3 linked regions of the Homo sapiens genome follow. The protein of the gene in region 1 interacts with the protein of each later gene in a biochemical or structural test. Each region holds a gene or a part of one and is shown on either strand. Other genes may lie near its edges.

Region 1 (8,901 bases):
AGAGGTTTTATTTCTGCATTTGGTTACAGGGAGAAGGCCTGGAAGTTATCGCCAGACCAACTTAAAATTACAAAGTTTTCCTGAGCTTATATACCTTCTAAGCTATATGTCTACGTGTAAGTGTGCATTCATCTAAAGACATCAGTGATTAACTTCTTTTAATCTATAACTAAGGTCTGAGTCCTGATGACCTTTCTCTGGAGCCTCAGTAAATTTTCTTAATGTAAATGGGTCCAGGTACTGGGGTGACTACCCTTATCTTGTCTCCTGCTAAATCATGGAGGTTTGGGGAGTTCCTTCAGACCCCCAATAAACTTGTTTGTGGAAGCCTGGGGAGTTTCTTCAGATCTCCAATAAAACTTATTTAATCCTAAATGGGTCCTGTTAAGAATTTTGTTATTTTTGTCATGTTCTAAGGCCCAGGAAAGGCCTAGGCAAAACTCTTGGTGGGCTTTTCTTACATTTCAGCCTTTGTATAAGGGCACTGGCTTTTAATATTTAACTTAACCACTCAGTCAGTACTGAAACAGTTGTTATAGAGGCCTATGCTAGTCAGACCTGTCCTGCCACAATCTCTCTTATTTTAAGCCCTCTTTTTGGTGGAAAACACCCTTAAGTACCTTCATGAGAAAAGATTTCATAGAAATAAAACTTTTTGAGATCTTGCATGTCTGAAAATACTTTTATTCTACAATTAGACTTCATTGATTGTTGGTTTTATTGGGAATTCTGGATTGTAAATGATCTCTCCTTGGAATTTAGGATATTGCTCAATTTTCTTCTAGTTTTCAGTATCATTGTTAAGAAGTCCAATGCCTTTCTCTGTTCTCATGTCTGTTCTTTTGTCTGCATTCTGTTATTTTATCTGAAGCATTTAGGGAATTTAAAAAATCTCAGCTGTTCTGACATTTTAGGATTAAGTGCTTTTGTGTGAGTCTTTTTCATTATTTTGCAAGCCATTCATCAGATCCTTTTCAATCTGGAAACTCAGGTCCTTCAGTACTGGGGAAATGTCTTTCTTTGCTAATTTTGCCCCCTCTCCCCGTCTCCTTTTTTCTTTCTATAGATTAGATGTTTGATCTCCTGAATTGATCCTACATTTTTTTCCTCATATTTTTCAACTGCTTGTCTTTTTGTTTTTATTTTGAGACTTCTCAATTTCATTTTATCATCTGCTATTGAATTTTAATTTGTTTTTTAACTTTTCAAAGTTCGTTTCTCTCTCTGAATTTTTCTTTAGAAAAATAGCCTCCTGTTTTCATTTCTTTAAGGATTGGCAGACCTTATTTTTGACGTGATTAGGCAGGGAATCTGTACATTTTGGAAAATCCCCCCGCCCCCACACCCTCAGTACTCACTAGTTATAAAAATACTTTTCCTCAGGCAAGTCAATTTCCCTAAAAAGGAATCCTCTAAGGTCTTCTCTGAGGGACAGGAACCTGAATACAGTCATTATGGGAGCTTGGAGGATAAGTCTCACAGTTTAGTATGTAGACTTTCATGTATTCCCTTTACCCCAATGTGCAGTAGGCACTTTTCTCCTAGGTAATATTCAGCTGTCTCTGTATCTTCAAGATCTGAGCTTCTCTAATGACTCCAAGGAGTAAACCTTGTTGTCTCTGGATTGTGGTAGAGTAGTGTTTTAACCTAGCTGCTTGGTGGGGGAAGTGATCTTGATGGGGCAAGTAGGGTCTCCCTACTCCTTTTACAGACTGTCAAGCAATCCTGTTGTTTACAGCCTCTTTTCTCAACCATGCCCCCTCAGAGATCCCTAGGCCTGGACCTAGGCACTTTGGGAGGCCAAGAGAGGTGGATCACTTGAGGTCAGGAGTTTGAAACTAGCCTGGCCAACTTGGTGAAACCCCGTTTCTAATAAAAATACAAAAATTAGCTGAGTGTGGTGGCACATGCCTGTAATCCCAGCTGTTCAGGAGGCTGAGGCACCTGGACCTGTGTTTATGTTATATCAAGGATTTTCAGGACAGAGCAGAGATAAATGCCTGAGTTCAACACACCATGTTGAATAATTCACTGGTCTCATGCCAAACATACAGACTTTCCTGAACTTTTTTGCCTTTCCAAGTGAGAATCTTTGGGAGTTAATCTGGGAGTCTATTTTTGAAAAGATCCTCAGGTGATTCTGATAATATCACACATATAAATTCATTATTACAGCACTGTTACACAGGCACACACATTTTTCAGTTAACTCTGAAGCCATAATGAACCAGGGATAAGGGGATGAGGAAAAGGACAGGTCAATTCTGAGAAAAGGCCGGGCACGGTGGCTTATGCCTGTAATCCCAGAACTTTGGGAGCCCGAGAGAGGTGGATCACTTGAAGTCAGGAGTTCGAAACCAGCCTGGCCAACTTGGTGAAACTTTGTCTCTAATAAAAATACAAAAATTAGCTGAGCGTGGTGGCACATGCCTGTAATCCCTGGAGGCCGAGGCAGGAGAACAGCCTGAACCTGGAAGGCGGAGGTTGCAGTGAGCTGAGATCACACCACTGCACTCCAGCCTGGGTAACAGTGAGACTCTGTTTTAAAAAAGAAATGAAAAAAAAAATCTGAGAAAAGGATGGCTTAAAAAGGGACAGGCCTTTAGTGATCCAGGGGCATTTTGGAGAAGGCATGTCTTGATTACGAATGTTGGTGGATTTCTTAATGGAGAGCAGGTCAGGGAAGCAGGAGAACCAATATTAATTAGAGTACTAGGATGGCCACCCGCTGGCTGGGAAAGATGGTTGGGAGATGGTGTTAATACATTTGACATCTAGTTTGAAGACAGAATGGATGTTTTCTTCCTTCAAGTCTACTTCATTTTCTTTTCTTCCCTCCCCCTCCAACTACTCTGCTATTTTCCTAACACAGATTCAAAAAATAAAGGAAATGATTAAGCCATTTTGAAAATTTGAAATTTGGAAAGCCAAAACAGTCCTAAAGAAAATTTCACACAAATGTGACCTCTAGGAACAGTATTCATTCAAGAGAACAATTTTCAAAAAGAAAAAAATATATATCCACTGAAAACAAACACTGCAGCATGTATAGAATAAGGATAGATATGGTTTCCATATTGCATACCTCATCATGATCTCTATTTTAGGAGCAGTATGTGTGTATGGTTAGTTATGAATTGTGGATAGGTATGAATTGTGGATTAGAAAGCAGAGAGTCACAAATCAAAGGAGTTGGCAGAAAAGAGACACAGATGAAGAAAAGGAGGGAGGGGTAAGTATTGGAACTACTGAACTAAGATGGCACACAACCAAGATTCCTCTTGCAGTCTATACTTTTAAACAGGAAAAAAGGGAGGTGGAGAGATGGGGTGAGGCATGGATGGTGCTAATCAAAAAAAGTAAAAAACTTTTCAATCATTTTTTATTACCCACCTAGGTTTGATGTCCACATTATTATTTTCATTGTCCAGTAAGTAATGCTATTAGAACAGACAAAGTTTGGTATTTGAGAACATGGAATATATACTAAGGTGACACACAGTGTTTATTAAATGTGTTGCAATGCAATGTGATAATTCCAACAGAGGAAAAAAATGTGAAACTGGATTTGCTATATATTTTTGTATGCTTCAAAAATGCAGCATAGATTTTTGCCACATTCATTTACTTCAAGTATATTCTTTCACAACTGCATTTCCTAGCACAATGACTGGCATATGGTAGACAGCTTTTAAGGTTTTGGAATGAATAGGTGAGAACTCAGAGAACAATTGTAGATATGGAAAGATTCTTGCTGATTTTTCTAGATTTGGGTTCCTTAACACAAACACACATGTTGTGTATCAAACAGCTCTATTTCTACCATATCTTTATTGAAAGCTACTTTCTGCAAATATGTAATAACGTATTCACCAACCACATCTTTCTACATTTTGATTCCCTTTGTATAAATGGAGAAATTCTAAGGTTCTTGGGAAAGGTATTCAGTCATGAAGCAGTCTCCAAAGTTGTATTTTGGCCTTACCTAACCAAATTTTCATTCATTTCATTCTTATTGACATTACATATACTATAACATTTGATGTTCACAGAAAATTAACTTCTATTTTAAGAAGTTTACTCACAGAACCACAGTTTGTGCATTTAACAATCACTATGAAATACATATGAAACATTAACCATCATTTTAGAGAACAATTTAAAAACTCCGAAGTAACTACTTTCCTTAACTTTGTCATCCCAACATTCTGGGTATAGGCATTGTTGGAAAAATATAATTAAAAACCAAAATCTCCCAACCCAGAAATCCTCTCCACAAACGTTAGTAGACAAAACACTTTTATTACTGAATAAGCATTAAACGAGACTGTGATACACATCACAGGCAATTTGCTAAGAGATTGCAAAGACAGAAATCTTGCCCTTTTGTATAGCCAAGTATATACGACCCATTACATACACGTTTTCAAGTTGAACAATAACTAGTCCTCAAGTAAGAGGACCTGACATTTGTGACATTAACTTTACTTAATAATTGGGGTGACCATCTGTGTTAGTTAATTGGTTTTATCCAGAGGAAAAACAAACTTCTCCTGTCTTTATGACGGAAGGTAGTTTTGCAACACGGAGCAAGTTGCTCACCGAAGTTACGCTCCTACTCTCTCACAGAAACTGGGAGATAGGGAAGGATGCTACTCCGTTGATATGTGCAGCATTTCAAAAAAAAAAAAAAAAAAAAGGTCCAGAGACATTCCTGACTGAGCATACAGTTGACAAGACCTATCTAGTCCTCAAGTGGATTTATACACATTTCAAAGAGTTGAGAAAGTACTTAACAATTAAGAAAGTACTTAAGTTTTCTAAGACAAATGCTCGGAGAGAAAGGGACGGGAAATCTCATCCTCCATTTTCAATAGGGAGAATTAAGCCTCTTATTTAAAATTTTTATGTTGGTTTTTGTTTATTTAGCTTTAAAACAGTAGACTTAAAAAAAGTCCAACTTAAGATTTATGTTTTTTTATGTGTAGGGCTGTTCTCTACGGTTAAATAAATAACCCTGCTTAGAGAAAATATTCACCACTCTTCTTTGGCTCCTATGTAACTCAGTTTTTGAGAGGGAGGGGAAATACCGGATTGACGCTATGTGGTTCAACCAATGCAAAAGATAACACCGCCTTAAAAAGTCTACTACAGGAACATGGGAGGGTCACACCCTCGAATAATGACGCATACCTATCCTACTGTTACTGATCACCTAGTAATAATCTTGTAGTTCACATTACTCATTTTTCACCAAATTCTTTTGGTGAAGGACGCTTCAGAAACGGCCATCACTGAAGAGCAGACCCGTTTGGGTTCTCCACGCATTCTAGACTCCCGAAGAGGTAAGAATTTATTATAGGGGGCCACTCCCAGGACCTGCTGTATGCTTTTAAACATCCATTACAATTCCAGCATTGAGTTTCTAACATTTTTAGGCAGGCTCAGGCACTGGGAGTACAGGATTGAAAGACAGTTCCCGTCCTTAAGGGACTCAGAGTAAACTGGAGTTGCTGAAAACCATTCTAAAGCAATCCACGTTAATAACAGATACAAGTAAAACGTGGGAACGTACAGGAAAAAGTGACCAATTCTGAGGCTGAAAAGTGCCTATTTTAGGGGTGGGGGCCTCGCGGCCCTAAAGCAGCTTCCCTTCCCGGAGATTTCAGCTCCAGGGATCGCCCAGCGCCCTCCGGGCACACTTAACATTTTAATCACGCCTCCGCCCCCACTCTCCGAATTCCTTTCCGGCTGCCGACCCGCCGAGTAGTCCCTTCCAGGCGGCCTCAGCTTATCATCGCCGGTCCGGCCACTTCCCGGCCGCGGCCAGGCGAGCCTCCCAAAGTTTCCTGTGAGGCCTTCGTCCGTCTCCGGCCCCATCTCACCACGGCAGCCCAGGACACCCGCTAGGGAGGAGCAGGTTACCGAGGCGGGGAGAGCGGCACAAACGCGCAGACCTCGGGACTCCACCCGGGCTGGTGAGCGAGCCCAGAAAGCGGCGACCGCAGCTCCGCGTCTCCACTCCCAGGGCCCGCAGCTTGGGCTAAGCGTGCGCCCACCCAGCCTAGGGCCCAAGTCCTGCCCCTTCGGGGACCGGGCCAATCGGCCGCTCCCCGCCTCCTGGGAGGTAGTGGAGGAGGGGGCTGAGGGCCGGGCGGCTGCGCCCGCCTTCCGCTCTTGCCCATTGGCTGAGGCCTCGAGGGTGCCCGGAGACCGGAGTGCAGCGGGATTGGTTGCAGAGGTTCGTGACAGTGGCGCCTATTGGCTGTGGCAGCCCCCGTGACGCGGGGTGGTGACTGGCTCCGGAGTCTGAGGGGTTCGGGCTTGTCAGGTTCTAGGTAGGTGCGTTTCGCGCCGCCGGCGGTAGGCGCTGTTGCCCGGGGCAACGCGGGGGGAGGGGGGAAGAGGAGGGAAGGCAAGCCTAGAGCGGGGGCAACAATGCCTGCCCGCAGAGGGGCGCCCGGGATTCGGCCAGGGCGTTGGGGGCTGTGCCGAGGCTCTTCCTCCGCCCTCAGCCAGCGCCCCCCCCAACCCCCGTCCCTGGCTGCAGGGTCATCCGCTCATCCTCCCGCCCGCAGCAGAGCATTCCTGGTTGGGGCTTGGGCCGGGCTACACACCCAGCCCCACGAGGGCCGCCCCTCCCACCATCCCGGGACCCGAAGGCTGAGGGGGCGGGTGCCGGCGCGAAAGGGCTGTGGCGGGCGTAGTGGCTCCGCCCCGTCGCGGGGTCTGGGGGCTGATGGGCGTGAGGCGGGGTGGTGGGGGGACTGTGGGCACCACCCAATCTTGCCTGTACCCTCACCCCTTTTCTCGGCGGCACTCATCTGGGCGCCGCCGTCCCGCTACGGGGGCATTCTCAACCCCTGGTATTCCCCCCATCCCTTCCTGCTTCTGGAGCCCCGCAGTCTCCCTTGACCCGCTCGGTCCTCCCCAGCTCTCCTCCTATCTGTCACCTTCTCCCGCTTTTATCCCCCACCTCATCTTTCTCCTCCGGTCTTGGCCAGAGGTGTCCTCCAAGAGTCTAATCAAGAGATAGATCTTAAGTGTGAAGCTAGTGGTGTCGTCGGTAATTTCTGCTCTGTGGTCTCTTTGCCAGTTAGAATTGGGGAGATGTTTGGAGGCACCTTCAGGGGTCATCCTTCTGCCTTACAGTTACCCCTAGGATCTACTTTCTGAATACGCTCATTGGGTTGTGTTGGTAGGGGCAAGGTACTTCTTAAACAAATTGAGGATTGTACTATGAGGTGGGCACTTTGTACGTTTGCGATTTTGCCATCCACTGTAGTGCAATTCAAAATCTAATAATTTGTTACGGCTGGTAGCCTTACATTTTTTTCCTTCGCCTTATGGTTAAAAAAAGAGCAGCTTTTTAACCTTTTTAATTCAGAAGTTGCGTATATTAATGGTTGTCTCACTATCACTTTGACATAAACTGCTGTAAAGGTGTACTCCATTTTCCTTTTCTCCAGATATGTTAAGATAATAAATTTCTCAGATGAGGTTACCATATATAAAAGTGTAGTGGAACATCAATAAGAGAATAGATCAAAACTATTTTAGTGATTAAAGATTAGAAAATACTTTTCAATTCATATGTGGAATGAGAATAGGATAAAAAAAAAAAACTATTGCAAAATCTTTAGTGCAGTATTTGTAGTCCTGGTATATATACCTGTGTTGCCCTTAAGAAGACATTTGTGAGTAGCTCCAGGTTTGTCAGTCGGGAAAGCAGAGTGTATCTTTTTGTAGTCCAGGAAAGCTTTTCTGCTAGTACTTTTGAGCCAAGAGAATTATGCTTCCAAAGATGCTGGGAATATATTAAGAGAGTACATAGGCATACTTCTGTTTTCATCTTTGAAAGACCTTTAGTGAAGATCTGTTTCTCTTCTGCATTGATTGTTGACAGCATTAAATATACATAATCTAAAACTATGTAGTGTCAAGTTGTTGCAGCTTCTGCACTGCTTCAAAGGTTGATGTCTTTAGTTCAGAAGAAATAATTCAAGCTTTGGTAGACAAATCATTTACATTTCATCTTCGATGTAGATGTTACTGTAACTCTGGACCGTGAACATTTCAAATTTGCCAGTTTTTTCTCAACTATTTTACTATGAAAAATTTCAAACAATGCAGAAGAGTCGAGTTGAACCCACCACCTATATATTTAGCAATAACGATTTCAAGACCACTGTTACACAGTAAACATTAAGGAATAGAGGAACTGAAATGATCAAGCTTAAAAAACCAGCGTATGTGGCCGGGCGCGGTGGCTCATGCCTGTAATCCCAGCACTTTGGGAGGCCGAGGCGGGCGGATCACCTGAGGTCGGGAGTTCGAGACCAGCCTGACCAAAATGGAGAAACATGGTCTCTAATAAAAATACAAAATTAGCCGGGCATGGTGGTGCATGCCTGTAATCCCAGCTACTCGGGAGGCTGAGGCAGGAGAACCGCTTGAACCCGTGAGGCGGAGGTTGTGGTGAGTGGAGATCACACCATTGCACTCCAGCCTAGGTAACAAGACCGAAACTCCATCTCAGAAAAACAAAAAACAAACAAACAAAAAAACCACAAAAAGCCCAGCATATGTATATACATGTATATGTAGTATACATGTATATACACACCACCAAATTATAAGGTGCTTATTTTTGTTTGTGAGTGGGAATTGTACTTACTAAAACTATACTAACTTAATTACATGAGACTATTCAAAGCAATCTTGTGAGTGAGGTAGGAAGTCATCATCTTTGTAATCAAGGCCCAAATAAGTAAACTGCATTTTGGTAATCAGACAAAAGGAAATCTGATGAACTTGTTATACAAAAAAACGTTTTGCTTCAAAATTGGACTCCTGTGTAAATAGATTATAGTTTTGTACTTGATTTATAAATAAACATCT
Region 2 (8,837 bases), on another chromosome or scaffold:
CGATATTAATATTTCAAATAACTCTTTTAAAATAAGAAAACCATGCAGTTAGCCTTCCCCTCAGTCTCTGATATTGTAAGGCAAGGCAGTTAATGACTTCAAGACATCTTGAGAAAATAATTATAACAACAGTTCCTTCATTTTTCTATTTTAGTGCTTAGAATTGTGTTTTATCATTATCTGTGTTCCTATATTTCCCTCTCACTGAACTAAGCCCCTAAAGGACAGAGTGTCATACTTATTATTGTATCAAACATAGTATCTGACATACTAACCGTTCAATAAATATTAGTTGAATAAATGAAAAAGTTGGATAAAGCTAACTTTCAAATGAAATGACTGCTTCCAACTGTTCTCAAACGCTACCCTTTCTCTGGAAATTTACTTAAGTTCAGTGATTTAAGCACAAAAACATTCATCCTACCACTAACTATATTATTAACATTATAAAAATAAATGTACAACACTAGAAATAGTAAAACATATTATGGTATACCCATATAATGGACTTTAATACAGCCACTAATAATGATAAAAAGCATTTAATGGCATAGAGAGATGTAAGAGAAGGAAGATTGGAAATTAAATATATGATCTTAAATATGTTTAAAAATGCATTAAAAAATACATTAAAACTAGAAAAAATTAATAGTTCCTTATAATATTGGATTATAATCTACTTTTCCTCTTTATTCATATACTTTCCTATAACTTCAAAACTTTCTACAAGTAGCAAGTATTACTCTTATAACTACAAAAACTTTAATTAACAAGAGAAATAAAAAGAGAGATTCACTTGACCACGTTTTCCAAAGGCTCCTCTCTCCCAGGATATTACATGAAGAAATTAATTCAGTATCCATTTGTAATGATTTATTTCATGAATAGATCTTTAATTTCTGTAATGCTATTAATTTTATTTTATTTATTTATTTTTTTGAGACAAAGTCTCACTCTGTCGCCCAGGCTGCAGTACAGTGGCGTGATCTTGGCTCACTGCAACCTCCACCTCCCAGGCTCAAGCAATCCTCCTGCCTCAGCCTCCTGAGTAGCTGGGATTAGAGGCACGCACCACCACCACCCGGCTAATTTTTGTATTTTTAGTAGAGACGGGGTTTCACCATGTTGGCCAGGCTTGTCTCGAACTCCTGACCTTAAATGATCCACCCACCTCTGCCTCCCCAAGTGCTGAGATTACAGTCATAAGCCACCACACTCAGCCAACCCTGTTTATTTTAAATCTTTTCAGAGACAAAAGTGCTTAATAATTTAAAAATTAATACAATGAAAAATTCACTATCAAATGTCAGAAAAAGACAATATCATACAGTACTTAAGCTAGGTATTCAGATATTACATAAATCCCAGAGTTACACACTTTGAATGTCTTGGTTTAAATGACAGGCTCTTAAGACCTGTTTAAAGTTTTCTTAGGGCAGCACAAATTTCTGTCTATTTTACAGGGACTTACTTTTCTTTTTACTTCCAAAAAACAAAAGCTAGAAACACGTATCTCTGTCTCAATATATCTTATTCCTCATTCTTCCATAAACTGTCACCTATTTCTATGGTTTACGTCCAAACCCTCCTTGCTTTCAGTATTTTTAATTAGGAAGCATCAGCTAGTTATGTGGCAAGTACTTTTCCTGTTCTTACAGTATTTTTCATAGTCAACCAAATACTATACGCACCTTCTTCCATTAACCCTCGGATCTGCTCATCTTTCTCTTTCAAAAGGTCTGCAGTTTCACTACTATTTAATCTAGTGGCAAGTTCTTCTTTTATGTTTTTGATTTCCTAATAAAAAAGAAATCTGTGAATACCGTAAAGAATGACTTTCACTCTAAGTACAGTTCTCATTTCTCCCCCATCCAAAGAAGCTGTCCATAATCACATTTGCAATAAGAATCTGTAAGTTTTGTTCAGTTAATCTACTACCTTGGTTAACTAAGACTAAGAAAACAACTTTGAAAATGATATTCAAAACCTAAATTCAGATATACAAGCAAGTGTTAATATGAAAATATAAATGAGAATAAATTAACTTTCCTTTTCATTTTTATTTTTATTTTTTGAGACAGGGTCTTACTCTGTCACCCAGGCTGGAGTAGTGGTACAATGACGACTCACCACAGCCTCAACCTCCCAGGCTCAGGTGATCCTCCCACCTCAGCTTCCCGAGTAGTTGGGACCACACGCATGTACCACCATGGCCAGCTAATCTTTGTATTTTTTGTAGAGATGAGGTCTCGCCATGTTGCCCAGGCTGGTCTTGAACTCCTGGGCTCAAGCGATCCACCCTCTTCGGCCTCCTGAGTAGCTGTGACCACAGGCGCACACCAGCATGACCAGCTAACTTTATGTATTTTTTAGTAGAGGCAGGGTCTCACCATGTTACCCAGGCTGCTCTCTAACTCCTGGGCTCAAGTGATCCGCCCACTTCAGCCTCCCAGTGTGCTGGGATTATAGACATGAGCCACCACACGTGGCCAAAAATCTACAATTTAAATGTTAATAGATGATATCCTTTTCACCTTACTTCTCTTTTTTCCAATATCAAAATACGATGAATGCACTCCTCAAAAATCTATATCTCTATAGAGTTTAATTAATATTACTTTAAATTTCAATTACCTTTTTAGCAGCATCTCTCTCTTTGCAGGCTAGTTGAACTTTCTTTTCTGCTTCTGCAATTCTTTGAGTAAACTCATCTTTCAAGGAAGAAATGCTACTGCTTTCTTCTTTCACTCTGAACATTTCACTAAATTTAAAATAATATTTGAGAATGAGGATGGTGTCTATATATCCCAAAGGTATACATGAGTTCAATTCTCAAAAGGAAGATAACTTTTCTCTGACATATACCTTATTAAAATAGAACAGTTTTAGGCCTATTAACTTTTAAGAAAAAAAAAGGAAATTTCCCTTGTTAAATTTATTTTAAAACACCTCAAAGAAAATCTGTTAGAAAGAGAAAATGTCACCAATATCTGACATGTAAAAATAAGAGAAGAGTAAATACAATGTTTCAATTCTGAATCTTCTTGTATCACATTTTCCCAATCAGCTCCTTATAGCACAACTGTGTTATTGATTAACACAGTTTTCTTCAAATACGTTTTAAATCTCTAATACTAAAAGACTAAAAACGAAAGGAAAGAGTTTTCCAGTTTTGCAAAATGACTCTCTTCAATGGCAAAGGGTAAAGACAATCAAAAGAGAAAAGTAATCTTTAGGGTTATAATTGAAAGCTATACAACTTTCAATAATGATAAAATTACAAAACATTTTAATTTCAAAAACATTCTTAAATATGTACAAAGTATACAGGTTTCCAGAAAATGTGTAACATTATTCACATTTGCAGAATACTTACTCTTTCAGGTTATCAAAAGCTTCTTCTAGAAGTGCTTTTTCCTTACTAAGAGATAATAACTGAGCCTCCCTTTTTTCCAGCTTTTCATTCAGAAATTCAACTGTCTGGATAAGGCGAATACATAAAAGTCAGAACGCTTAGCTTTAAAAAAGACCATTTTTACATGCAGGTGTATCACTGTAACAAAGAAAACAGCTTTATCTCATAAAAACAATCAAGAACAGTATTAGGAACACAGAAGATCCAGAACAAGAAGAACTCTTAGGCAGCTGAGAGGAGAGTAAAAGTAAATACAACCAAATAGCTAGTGGGAGTGTAAGTTGAGAAACCCCTTGAGAAAACAATTAGGCAATATCTAGTTGGGGATCTACATACTCTTTGATATAGAAAATTTCACTTTTAGGTATACCTTAGAGGAGAAAATTCTTGCATAAATGCACTAGGCGACATGTATAAGAATACTTTATGTAGCTTCCTGGTAATAGCAAAAATCTGGAATAATCTGCATACACACCAAAAGAAGAAGGGAGATGGATGCAATCAAAAGAGGTCAAAGAGGAAATTTAAAGCCTCTATATTTTAGCTAGGTGGTGGATACACAAGTGTCTATTTTCTGTATTATTCTTTACCCGAAACACATACCCTTTTTAAAATATGACATATTGCATTTAAAAAATAAAAGTAGGCCAGGCGCAGTGGCTCATGCCTGTAATCCCAGCACTTTGGGAGGCTGAGGTGGGGGGATCACCTGAGGTCAGGAATTTGAGAGCAGCCTGGCCAACACGGTGAAAACCAGTCTCTACTGAAAATACAAAAATTAGCTGGGCATGGTGGCAGGCACCTGTAATCCCAGCTACTCAGGAGGCTGAGGCTGGAGAATCGCTTGAACCCAGGAGGTGGAGGTTGCAGTGAGCCAAGATTCTGCAATGATCTTGCACTCCAGCCTGGGTGACAAGAGTGAAACTCCATCTCAAAAAGTAAAAATAAATAAATAAATAAAAGTAGAGGCCGGGCATGGTGGCTCATGCCTGTAATCCCAGCACTTTGGTAGGCTGAGGAGGGCAGATCACTTGAGGTCAGGAGTTCAAGACCAGCCTGACCAACACGGTGAAACCCCATCTCTACAAAAAATACAAAAATTAGCCAGGCATGGTAGCATACGTCTGTAGTCCCAGCTACTTGGGAGGCTGAGGCAGAAGAATCACTTGAACCTGGGAGGCAGACTAGCCTGGGCAACAGGGCAAGACTCCGCCTCAAAAAATAAATAAATAAAATAAAATAAAAGTAGGGCTGGACACGGGTTCATGCTTATAATCCCAGCACTGTGGGAGGCCAAGATGGGAAGACCGCTTGAGCCCAGGAGTTCAAGACCAGCCTGGCAGCATAGTGAGACCTCATCTCTACTAAAAATCAAAAAAATAGCCAGGCGTGGTGCGAGCCTATGGTCCCAGCTACTAGAGCGGATTAGGTGGGAGGACTGCTTGAGCCCAGGAGGTCAAGGCTGCCGTGAGCCATGATCGCACCACTGCACACCAGCCTGAGCAACAAAGAGAGACCCTGTGAGCCGCGATCGCACCACTGCACGCTAGCCTGGACAATAGAGAGAGACCCTGTCTCATTCATACATACATCCATCCACACTAAAAGTAATTTTAGAAAACCCATAAGAATTTTTAAATCTCCATAATGTATCAGTATAAAGCTAAACAAAAAGTAATGCTTGGAATGTCTAATTCCTTAGGTCCTACTCAAATGGTGATAAACTTGAGTATAAAAGGAGTAGGAAGGGTTCCTTTTTGGACTCAAAAAAATAGTCTTACCTGAGTTTGGTTTAGATGAACTTAGAAATCACTTACCTTCTTAAATACACTGAAATTCAAAAATATCTGATAGTAATTAGTGCTGGTTTCTAAGAATTCAAACTCCTATTATATATCTTACAGTATATAGCTATTACTAATTGAAATATTATTGCACAGCATTTTGTTTGTGAATATTTAACCTGATTAACAGAATCTGGCACTTTTTTAAAAAATTAAGTAATTCAATACATGGCACTTACAGGACATTTCTTCAAGACATCCTACATCTCAGAAGTCTATTAAAGATACCAGATCCAACTAAATTTGTATATCTAAAAGTCACAGTAAAAACCAAAACTAGGACTTAATGTCAAAGAATTTATATCACTTTCCTTTCACATGTATTAGGTAGAAGCAATCTGTCCCTCCTAAGCAATGCTTTTGTTCCTTAGACATTTCTCTTTCTCGTTCATGTGAAATATAGCTATCAATAGGAGATCTCAAAAATAACATAAGCAGAAAACAAACTGAAGCAATATAAGGATATATACTCCTTATATATGAATGAAAATACTAATAACAGAAAAGCACCAATAATTAAAATCTTAAATTATCATTTAATATTTGCTACAAATAATGTAAACATGTAAAAACAAATTCTGATACAAGAAAAACCATAACATTTAGTTTTTTTGGCACATCTATCTGCAAAGGAGGTGAAGATACATGTTAATGTAAGAAAATATTCCTTTCAAATTGACATACTAATAAGCATAACAGAATTTTGAAGTGATAAGGACTCAAAAATAAAGATGTAAGATGAAAACTTTCATGCTTAACTGTATTGAAGTATCAACTTATTCTACCATAATTGCCTTGGAGAAATTCCAAATTATATTAATAATTGTTCAACTTCAAGGTACTTAATGCTACACAGAAATGGCAAAATGCGTATGTTTTTAAATCTGTATAAATTATTATGCATCAATGAAAGTATTTTTTAAAACAAATGATTTAATCTCCAAAAAGCACATCTAAAAATCCCTTCCACTTACTAGAGTTACCTTGCAAACATCTTCCTTCTCAGAAAGTGCTTCTGGCTGACTTTCAGCAGGTTCACACTGCTCAGCCACCTTGTCTAACACAGTCTGTCCTTCATTTATTGGTGTGGAAGAAACCAAGATATCAGGCTGTTCACAGTTAACAGGAGTTGCACTTCGTCCACTTTCTTCCATTTCTGCTTCCTCAGTGGGTATAACTAATGTTTCATTTACTTCTTCAGATTTTCCTTCAGCAGATTCAACTGTTTTAGACTTTGGAGTTGAAGAATTAACTATAATAGGCACTAAAGCATATCCCTTGCCTGACAATTCATCATCTGAATTGATTTCACTTACACTCCGGCTATCTAATGACTGTACACTAAATGAGTCTATTCTTTCAAAAGCATCAGATGAACAGCAACTCTCAGTGAGTTTTTGGAAATCATCTAAACGATTATATTCAGGACAAGCAGATGCAGAGAGAAGCTGAAAAGATGTCTGCATCAAGTGAAGACTTGATTTTGAATCTGTAGTCTCTTGTCTCGAGCTCGCTGAGCTCTCACTTATTACACTTTCATGATCTAAAACTTCAATATCACTGGTGGTAGAAGTACCTGATGAAAAGGTACTAACAGGAGGAGAAGGTGTATTGCTCTGCCTGTCTTCATGTTTTTGTTCCTTAGGTTCCAAAGCTATGTCCTTTGTTTCTGCTGTGAGAGACTGCGTAGACGTATTAGATATACTTTCCATAGTTGTTTTCACATCAATTACACTTTCAGATACTTTCAAACTTACAGTTGGCACCTTCATATCCGATTCTTTATTAACAGTTTCTTCGTGCTTGCCTTCAGTTTTAGGTGATGAAGTACCTGCTGCCAGAGTTTCCCCTGAAACACACAAAGAAGAGTCTTTTACTTGTGATTCAGTTGTTTCAGGAGTTCTTGACTGGCCAATGTGCAAGGATTCATGTAAGCTGCTTTTCACTTCTTCTTCTGGTCGTTGTGATTTTGCTGGAGGTTTTGATACCACTGGACTCTTCTGAATGGTCTGGACATCAGTTGGCGAGAGAAAGGCACTGAAGAAATTTTCAGATTCATCGACCACAGTCCTCCGAACTGGCTTTGTGATTGCTTTAGGAGAGGCTATTGGTGGACTCTGAGGTTCAGTGTTTGATTTCAACCCCCAGGTTGAAGTATCCCATCCTCCACTGACAGGGGAACTTATTCCTTTAACAAAAAAGTAAATATTAAAAAAGAACACATATATGTTACATTAATATTTCAATCATCATTATAAATCAGTATAAATATAAATTTAGAAAAAATACCCTATGAAATACCTGTAATTTGCACCTGCTAAACTCCTTGCTTACTACATCATTAAGTAGTTTCCAAGTTAATACAGGGACTTACGGAAGAAAACTGGTGTGGGTCCACCTGAGAGGAAGGAGGAGCACAGACAAAAGACTGGGCCTGGCCTGGACTACCAGATGCGAGTATGTTATTCCTCCCCACAACAAATTAAGGAAGTAACAGTATATGTTTTATAACCCACAGTAAGTCCAAGATACCTATGATTCATCTCATAATAACACGCTTTACTTATCAATATGAAATAAACTAATATGGAACTAACTGAATAGGTTGGGCCATGTGCAGTCACAGAAAAATGACCCTACCTATTCAGTCAGTTTCATATTAATTTTTACTTGTAATATCAGTAATATAGTTATGAGCTAGACAAAGGGCAACACTCAAAAACTGAACTCAGTGGGTATGGAGGTTCACACCTATAATCCCAACACTAGAAGAGTCATTTGAGTCCAGGAGTTCAAGACAAGCCTGGGCAACATAGTGAGACCCCTGTCCCTACAAAAAAATTTTTTTAATTAGCTGGGCCTGGTGGCCCACATATGTGGTCCCAGCTACTCAGGAGGCTGAGGTGGGAAGATCATCTGAGCCCAGGAGGTGGAAGCTGCAGTGAGCCATGATCAAACCACTGCACTTCAGCCTGGGTGACAGATCGAGAACCTGTCTCGAAAACAAACAAAACAACAAAAGCCTCAAACCAAGATAATGGTGACAAATGTTCTTTCCCGAAGATCATATTAAACTGATGGGAATGGTAAGTTCTAGAGAACAAATTCATTTTCATCCACTTAATCACAGGCTGATTCTCTAAATCCCACTCTCCAAGCCCACTCTAAGAGGAAGTTTTGTTCTCAAATTCTAAATTATGTCAGAAATTACAAGGTCATTATAAATTTCAGAAATGTGTGTTTTTTTAAGAACTATTGCTCTTTGACATAGAGGTGGTTGACACTAGGGTTTTTAAAAAAGCGCTACAAAGAAAATGACTGTTTTCTTGGGGAAAAAGTTAATTATCATATCAGTCATACAAATAGCTACTACTAAAATCCTGATTTTTAAAAATGGCATAATCAGGATCTTAAAAATGGTATATTCGTTAAAGTATTTAAAGCATTTCTTTAAAAATGTTTTCTTTTTCAAATTAAAATGTGGCTGAACAAAATATTCACAAAATATTCACAATTAGAAGTTGGTGGAGAGAGCACAAGTAACTAAAAGCTTCTAAAAACTATCAAGCCTTATAGTA
Region 3 (8,837 bases), on another chromosome or scaffold:
AAACGAATAGTGCACTTCTTTGTATGCAATATAGAAACTCCAATGTATATCCTGCATTTGTCTTTTTGGATCAAACTTATTTAATTTAAAAATATGCAAGTACCCATTTATTAGGTATGAAGATGTACTAACTGGGTAATGCAACAGTACAATAAAAAGGAACGGCAGCTAATGTCAGAACAATGCACACAGCCTAATAGATAGTTATTATTCAGCAGGGTACATCTGACCCATAGTGATCTTTAGAGTCAGGTGAACTTTCTAAATATGCCCTATAGAAAAACATTCTTACGCAAATAAATAAATAAAATGGAGTCACTACTAGTATTATTACTGTCAGGGGAAGTTTCTAAATATGCCCCATAGAAAAGCATTCTTCAATAAATAAATAAACAAAATGGAGCCACCACAAGTCTTATTTCTATGATTTCCCCATAAAATTAAAATGTAATTTTAAAAGTTCTGGTATTATAAAGTTTTTCAGAAAATTTATCTGTTCATTTTTAAAGAAAAAGACAAAAATAATGGGTCTGAAAAATAATTTCAAAACTATTGAAAAGAGATTCTTCATTGCATTAATTTTTTTAACAACACAAGATTTTATAACATTTTCCTTTTTAAACTTACCCATCTGCTCCACAATCTCTGGAGGAAATACTCGGGAAGCAAATGCTCGTCGGAAAATATCTGAAAATTCCTTGTCTAGACCTCCTATTCCCATTTTTTCAAAGTTCCAGTCAGGATTGATAATTGATTGGCGATTTTCCTTGGTTTTAGCTTTGCCTATGTCAAACGAATATTATCAAATGTGAAACAAGGACTTTATCACTAAGTCTAAAAAGACAGACAGAACTCCCTGAGCATCCTAAATGAATAAAGAAAAGCTACCCTTACATATACAAAACGAACAATATAATCTTAGCTGATTTTACAGTCAGAAGGGTAAGTTTTGCTATGCTATCTACTTTGTCTGATCTCCATATATGGTAACACACTGTCAAAATGACTAGCTAAACTTATGCTGTAGTCTATTTGTATCAGTCCATAAAACTTAGTTTTATTAACCTTCAATCTAACTAAATTAACTAACTCGGTTGATCAGAAGAAATGCCATATCTGATGAAGACAACACTAGCTGGCAGAAATGCAACTGAAATCTCGCAGTCACTGAAGTCTCCTAACGCAAGTTTATTTTAAAATACATATATTTATCCAGATTAAGCTTATACAGGTAATTGGGCATATAACCCCTCAGCCTAAGGAAATATACTGAACAAGTTTGATGTCTTCTTTGCTTTCTCTTCACTTGGACACAAAAGTCTGAAATCATCCTAAAGACTTCAATGATTACAAAACTCATGTTTAAAAATTCTCAAGAGGACAAAAATTATCTAACTTAAATGTCAGAGTGCCACCTAAAGTAACTCAAGAGAACCACATTTACTATTTCAAACAAAGAATAAATTAAGTACCTTAGTATGCTCTATTATAAACAAAAAATAAAGTAATAATATGGTTTTTATAAAACCAGGGAAGAAAATGTCACATTAAAAAAAGTTTATCCTAAGAAATGCTAAATATTTGAGGTGATATGTTAATTAGGCTGATTTGATCATTCTACAATGTATACATGTATTAAAATATCAAATTGTACCCTATAAATATATACAATTATTATCTGTCAATTAAAAATAAAGTAACGCTTTTTAAAAGTTTATACTAGATGATAATTTTATGGTTAGAGTTTTGAGGCCTTAAGATTTCCTTTGGAAAGCGATGAAAAATATTTTTTTCTTACACTCTACTGCCCTCTTGTGGGCAAAATTTACTGAATGCCAATTAACTACACAATTTTTTTCCCATGGATTACTTAGAAATACCTATGAAAGTTATGCAACTCCCTTGGGATATCTTAACAAAAGGTACACAAAAATAAAATACAAAGAAGTCACTTCATAAATGTACTAGATCAATAACAGGAAAATACATCCTACCTTCATAAAATGACATACAGGCATTAAAAATCATGTTATAGGTGTATATTTAAGATGTTTGAAACATGCTAAGCAAAAAAAGCAAATTACAAAACTATGAAAACAGAACCAAATTTTACAGTGTGTGAATTGTTTTCGAATGCCTATCCATATTTTATAAATAAAATATTTTATAATTAACAAAAAACAATAAGGGGGAATGGTAATTTGTGGACCAGGAAATAAAGGCCACGCACTCAAAGACTGTTAAGTGACCCTGGACATGATGATGTGCAACCAATGAAAACCCTCTACTCTCTAGTAGGGTAGACATCAACATAGTTAAATCAACCAAAAATAAGAATTAATGCCCAGTTAATGTCACATTATTCTGGTGAGTTACTATTCTCAGAGAATAAGCTGCAATTGTTTTAATATGACAAAAATTGTGCTAGAGTACAAGAGTAGGACTGAACCATGAATCTGCTGGGAAGACTTGACCTGCACATTCATCACTTAATCACTAAAAGAAATGATGATGCTATCTCATTTAACACAAAACCAAGTGAGGGGCATTCTACAAAATAACTGACCAGTTCTCAAAGTCATAAAAGACAAAGTCTGAGGAACTGTCAGTGACTGAAGAAAACTCAAAAGACAGAACAACTAAATGCAATATGGGATCCTAAATTAGATCTTGGAACAGAAAAGGACACAATGGAAAAACTGGTGAAATCTCAATAAAATCTGTAGTTTAGTTAGCAGAAATGAAACCATGTTCATTTCTTATCATTGTACTTTTGAAAATGTCAAATAAGACATTAACATCAGGGTAAGCTGGTAAAGGGCATACAGAAATTCTCTGAGCTATTTCTGCAAATCTGTGAACCTAAAATTATCTCAAAATTAAAAGTTAAAAAATTAATTTGTTTCTTATTTTAGTGCAATTTCTAGGAAATTAAAAATTACACATGTGGCTCACACTCTATTTCTATTGGACAAAGTTGATCCAGATGAAGGTTTTAAACGTTTTCATCAGCAAACTGACCAACAGGAAATACCCCATGCTTCTGTGATAAACTCTCTCAAGAGAGATGCCCCTCTTTCCTTTCCCCATTTGGAAATCACTGTAGTTGAGTTACATATAGAAATAGGCCCACTTCATTTCAAATCTTCTAAAAACTGTAAATCTTACCAATAAGATTAAGTGACGAATTTTCTGCTTTTTCAAATGCAACTTGACTGTTTCCAACAACCAGTCCTACTTCAATCTGTAGAGAAAGACAATAATTAGTAGTCTAATAGCAAACTTCTGGACTTCTCAAAGCAAGGCCAAAAGTGAGGGGGAAATGAGGTCTCTCTGGGCAAAGCAAACCTTCCAGACTATCATCTGAGCTACTTTTACTTTTCTCATAACTTTCTTCTACAATTCTTACATGCCTTATTTCCATGCCTATATCTTTCCAATAATGCGTTTCTTATTATTTATTTACAATAAATATCTGCATTCAAGCAAATTATATGTACATATACGTCTACATTTTACATTAATATTAGGTCTGCAAATAAATACATTTTAAGCTATATTTTAATAACAATGATGGCTATGAAAGCAATTTTTTCTCCCTACTATCTTAAAAGGGTACACAATATGAAAAAAATCACTAAGCAACAGATAGGAAAATTATAATCAATCTGCACAAATTACATTATAAAGATGATCTAGTAAAGATGATCAGAAATAAAAGCTACCTTCTGCCTTTTCCCTGTCGCAGGCTCTCCCTTCAGGATGCTAGGATCCATGGCTTCAATGTCCTTCACCAGTAAGCCAAAAAGCTTTTCATTGAAGCTAAAGACAAGCTATGTAGAAAAGAGGTAAGGGGAGAAAAATCACTTCATAATATAATAGTTTGATCCTCAGATCATCACCAATGTTTTTCAAATGCAGAAAACCAGTTTATCTTATATACTCCTCTCCAATCTGCTCCTCAAACAAACTACTCACAGCCAATGAAGAAAAGGGAATTAGCACTTACGATCAGTGTTTACAAAATGACTGCAAAACTCATGTTTAAAATTTCTTCCACATGGATAAAAAATATCTAATTTAAATGTCAGAGTGCCACCTAAAGTAATTCAAGAGTACCACATTTACTATTTCTAACAAAGAATAAAGTTTCTTAGTATTTTATTCAAACACTACAGCCAGTTATATAATATTCACAAACACTCTTGGAAGCAGAAACTACGACTCCATTTTACTAGTGAGGAAGCTGAGATGCAGAAACAGGCTATGCAACAAGGCTCAAAGTCACAGTAAATGAGAGCGCCAGAAGTCAACCCTGGGTCTGTGACTCTACAATTCCTGCTTTTCTATCACTAGTACAAAATGCTTGCCCTACAAGTGCAGAGACAGCTTCTGAATGCTCAATTACTCATTCACCAAATCTTTGCTGAGTCCCTTCTAAAAGTTTGGTCTTCTTCTATGTGCTGGGGTATAATGGTAAATATTACAGGTTGGGCTGTCTGTCCATTCTGCTACTACGAGATACCACAAATGAGAAGAAACAGTTAAGGACAGTGATCTGGAGTAAGATATTTACTTCTTCTCTGAATTACGAAAGATTCTCTTTCATGGATTTACTGACTTCTACATGCTACTGAGTTTTAAATTATTATAAATACCAAAGCATTTTCTATTAAACATTCTCCTAAACATTTTCTATTAGGATACTAAAACTAAAAGCAAAGGTAAAAACCATCAAGTTTAGCTAGGCAATCTGAGCACAATTTTGGTCATCCAATACACAACAGCACCGCAATAGCTCTCTGGTGAATTGTCCTGATCTACTTTCATCAGAGACCTAACTGTACATGGTATTCCTGTCTTATTTTCTGTTTTCTTCAACTAGAAAGTAAGTTCTATGACAGCAGGGATCATATCTATTTTGTTCACTGCCGATCTGCAGTGTCTAAAACAGTGACTGGTACTAGGCACTAGGTACTATCAAATATGTGTTTAATTAATTCTTATCTCAACTATGTCCCTTAGCTGTGTAGCCATGGGCATACCATTTACCTTCTTTAGATCTTAAATTCCTCATTTGGCCAGGCGTGATGGCTCACACCTGTAATCCCAGCACTTTGGGAGGCCGAGGTGGGAGGATCACTTGAGGTCAGGACCAGCCTGGCCAACATGGCAAAACCCCATCTCTACTAAAAATACAAAAAAAAAATGGTTGGGCATGGTGGCTCATGCCTGTAATCTCAGCACTTTGGGAGGTCAAGGCGGATGGATCACCTGAGCTCATGAGTTCGAGACTAGCCTGATTAACATGGTGAAACCCCATCTCTACTAAAAGTACAAAATTAGTCGGGTGTGGTGGCGCATGCCTGTTATCCCAGTTACTCGGGAGGCAGAGGCAGGAAAATCACTTGAACCCAGAAAGCGGAGGTTGCAGTGAGCTGAGATGGTGCCGCTGCACTCCAGCCTGGATGACAGGGTAACACACCATCTCAAAAAATAAATGAATAAATAAATAAAATTTTAAAAAATAAAAAAATAAAATTCCTCATTTGTATATGTGGAGTTACATAAGGTAATCTCTTGAGGTTCATTCCAATTCTAGTACTCTTTTTAAAATAATGTACTATATCCTTTTCCTATCTAGCAGGAATTCAGTTTTTTAAGATTCTCAAATAAGCCCATAACCAAAATAAGAACTTTTTTTTTTTTTTTGAGACAATCTCGATCTGTCACCCAGGCTGGAGTGCCGTGGCACAATCATGGCTCACTGCAGCCTCAACCTCCCAGGCTCAAGCCGTCCTCCCACCTCAGCCTCTTGAGTAGTTGAGACCACTACACGCAGCTACTTTTAAAAAAATTTTTGTAGAGACAGGGTCTCACTTTGTTGCCCAAGCTGATCTTGAGCTCCTGGGCTCAAACGATCCTCCCAACTCAGTCTCCCAAAGTGTTGGGATTACAGGCATGAGCCACCATGTCTGGCCAAGAGCTACATTTTCTACAGAACTATATTAGTGAAAGAGACAGACATTCCAGAGGCAAAACAAATGTCCTATGATATAAAAAGGAATTTCAGATATATATGTCCACAGGGTTCCCAAATTTGCTGAGGGAAAAGCTGCTATAATTATACATGACATTTTAATCTAAAAGCTACTTTAGAATTTTTCTGAACAGACTCCTTGAAGTTCAGTAAATACATCTCCCTCACTTTTATCACTCACCTTGGATATACGAGTTGATACGCAAAGCCCCTCTCACTTTTTAAAAGGTGGAATTAATTTTGGAAAACTGCAGAAATTAGAATACCTATAAAGTTAAAGGAATGAAAGAAAATTAAAAACTACCTGTTGTCCCACTGAGAAGGCCTGGTTGTTGAATTGCTGAATAAATTCTGCTGCCATCTTGTCGGTGTCATAAGGGTTGGAGTCAATGCTTTTTTTCTGCAGGAAATCAATCTCGATGGTCATTGTGCCAATACACTGTTTGGCTTTGTCAAATGTATATAAGGAGACTAGGGGAAAAAAAGAAGCATTTTTTTAAAAATCACAGGAGTACAAAATACCTGTAGTGTTTCTAGTAACTAAAAGTTTCACATAAATGAATCATAAACTACTTCACCAAAAATGGGGTTTAAATGGCCTTCACTGGAGGGACACACAGGTACAGGTTTAAAAAATAATAGTCACTAGAGATTTTCTTCCCCATCTGAATTAATTAGAAATACTGAATGGCAGGCCGGGCGCGGTGGCTCACTCCTGTAATCCCAGCACGCTGGGAGGCCGAGGCGGGCGGATCACGAGGTCAGGAGATTGAGACCATCCTGGCTAACACAGTGAAACCCCGTCTCTACTAAAAATACAAAAAATTAGCCGGGCGTGGTGGCGGGCGCCTGTAGTCCCAGCTTCTTGGGAGGCTGAGGCAGGAGAATGGCGTGAACCTGGCAGGCGGAGCTTGCAGTGAGCCAAGATCACGCCACTGCACTCCAGCCTAGGGCAACAGAGCCAGACTCCGTCTCAAAAAAAAAGAAAGAAAGAAATATTGAACGGCAGTCTCTCTGTTGTTATCCCTCATCCCACTCTTATCAGGATCACAATCCTCCCCACATGGCCTCTGCATCTTTCTCCTCATTTAATGCAATACAGTATGGGATGCCCCAACACAGTTGGCATAACATGCTATTTCCAAATAAGATTTTTGTTTGACACAAAAAAACAGCTAAGGTGGGATGTGGATGAATTATTTTGGCCTAAGAAAGTAGGACGCAAGGCAAAAAAAAGAAGCTTGAAAAACAATGTTTACTAGCGGAATTTGCTCCAGAGCAAGTTAGAGTTTGACATTTCTTTTTTACTACTACAAAAATGTTTCCTGAGCACCTGCTACATCTAGGGAACTACAGTAAGTTCTACATGTACACATGTAGATAAGGGCAAGGACGAGGTTTTTAACTCCTCTTCCTATTAACAGCATCTAACAGTTTCTTTCAGGTGCTTAATATATTCATGAACTGTTTAAATGAAACAACAATAACAGAAAACCCATGGTCTCCATGCTAATAACAAAGGAGGCAATAAAGCATACATACAAAGCTTTGGATAAGAAAATTCCTGTTCAAGCCACATAAAAAGTTTTAAAATGAATTTTAGGTTACAATGTAATTAATATTAAAGTGTTACACATGATTTTACATCATGTAATAACTGTTCGACCAAAAACCTTTAATTGTACAACTACAACACAGTTTACATATCATATTTTTAGAAAAATATATGTTAAAACAAATTTTGCTAGTGACAGATAATTACAAAGAAGCATTTCCCTAGAAAAAAAAACTTGATTCTTAAATCAGCTCAAAAAGTATACTTATAAATGCCAGTTTATAAACAAACTTTTAAAGCAAAAAATTTTACAGTGCTGTATACTGTAGTGGTACTATTAGGAAAGAGTAGAGTAGGCTACCCAGAAAAGTTCAAGAGGATTTTTGCATTTGAGTTTCCCCAGGAGGGCAACTTGATTACGCCTAGTAAGAAAGAGTCTATTGCTACTCTTCAATAAGGCTTCACACACGAGCACACACACACACACACACACACACACACACACACACACACATTTATTTTCCCTTTAGGTTCCCTGAAGATACTTGTCCTAAAATTTACCAATGGCCCCTTAAGGATACAGTAGCAGCTCTCGTAAGCAACCTCCACTGAGCTGAGTCATCAGAAAGCTGACCAACTTTTATCCCTCCAACATATACCCATCAGCCTATGGTTTGCCTAACGCTCAGAGCTTGTAGACAGGAGTTGCTACACATCATGGGTCAACCAAGTTCATTCTGGTATCTGTCTGTGCTAGTTACACTTGTTACAGTTAATTATGAAATATAATTAAATAGTATAAAAACTTCTGAAGGCCTGGTTGTTGAACTGTTATTACAATGACTTTGACATTCTAGAATAGATATTATAAGTTGAAAGCTTTGGGAAAATTTTTTAAATGAAGTGTTTCTTCTAGAAAAAAAAAATACTGCTAACTAGGTATAAGCATTAAAATTAGAAAAGGTTGGGAGTGAACTCTACAAAAATCCAAGAGGTTTTGGCACTCTCAGATGCTCTACAAAGTCTAAGTTCTCCAGCCATTTCAAAGAAATCCACCTGGAAATTATGGGTAAAGTGTATGCACAAAAGATAATACAGAACTCCAATCCATGGACCACACCTCCAAGAAAAAGCCTTTAACCAACTTTTCACTTAATTACCAGTCCAAGTCACATTGGGTAAGTGAGCTTCTACAGTTCTCACCACAAAAGCAGGTTATAAACAAAGACTGTTTTTTCACAC

What was found.
Region 2: of the proteins of FER (region 1) and TMF1, one has a biochemical effect on the other in vitro, tested with the Homo sapiens proteins (one study listed by BioGRID).
Region 3: of the proteins of FER (region 1) and NSF, one has a biochemical effect on the other in vitro, tested with the Homo sapiens proteins (one study listed by IntAct).

What each region holds. Positions count from the first base shown.
Region 1 is NC_000005.10:108,742,656-108,751,556, forward strand, and holds the start of FER (tyrosine-protein kinase Fer), read left to right. Parts: upstream 1-5,241; 5' UTR 5,242-5,345; intron 5,346-6,292; exon of another isoform or gene 6,293-6,338; intron 6,339-8,901. UniProt on the Homo sapiens protein: Tyrosine-protein kinase that acts downstream of cell surface receptors for growth factors and plays a role in the regulation of the actin cytoskeleton, microtubule assembly, lamellipodia formation, cell adhesion, cell migration and chemotaxis.
Region 2 is NC_000003.12:69,041,116-69,049,952, forward strand, and holds part of TMF1 (TATA element modulatory factor), read right to left. Parts: intron 7,921-8,837; exon of another isoform or gene 7,843-7,920; intron 7,448-7,842; coding exon 6,243-7,447; coding exon of another isoform or gene 6,234-6,242; intron 3,481-6,233; coding exon 3,377-3,480; intron 2,762-3,376; coding exon 2,635-2,761; intron 1,798-2,634; coding exon 1,692-1,797; intron 1-1,691. UniProt on the Homo sapiens protein: Potential coactivator of the androgen receptor. Mediates STAT3 degradation. May play critical roles in two RAB6-dependent retrograde transport processes: one from endosomes to the Golgi and the other from the Golgi to the ER.
Region 3 is NC_000017.11:46,635,050-46,643,886, reverse strand, and holds part of NSF (vesicle-fusing ATPase), read right to left. Parts: intron 6,512-8,837; coding exon 6,345-6,511; intron 3,834-6,344; coding exon 3,726-3,833; intron 3,245-3,725; coding exon 3,169-3,244; intron 784-3,168; coding exon 628-783; intron 1-627.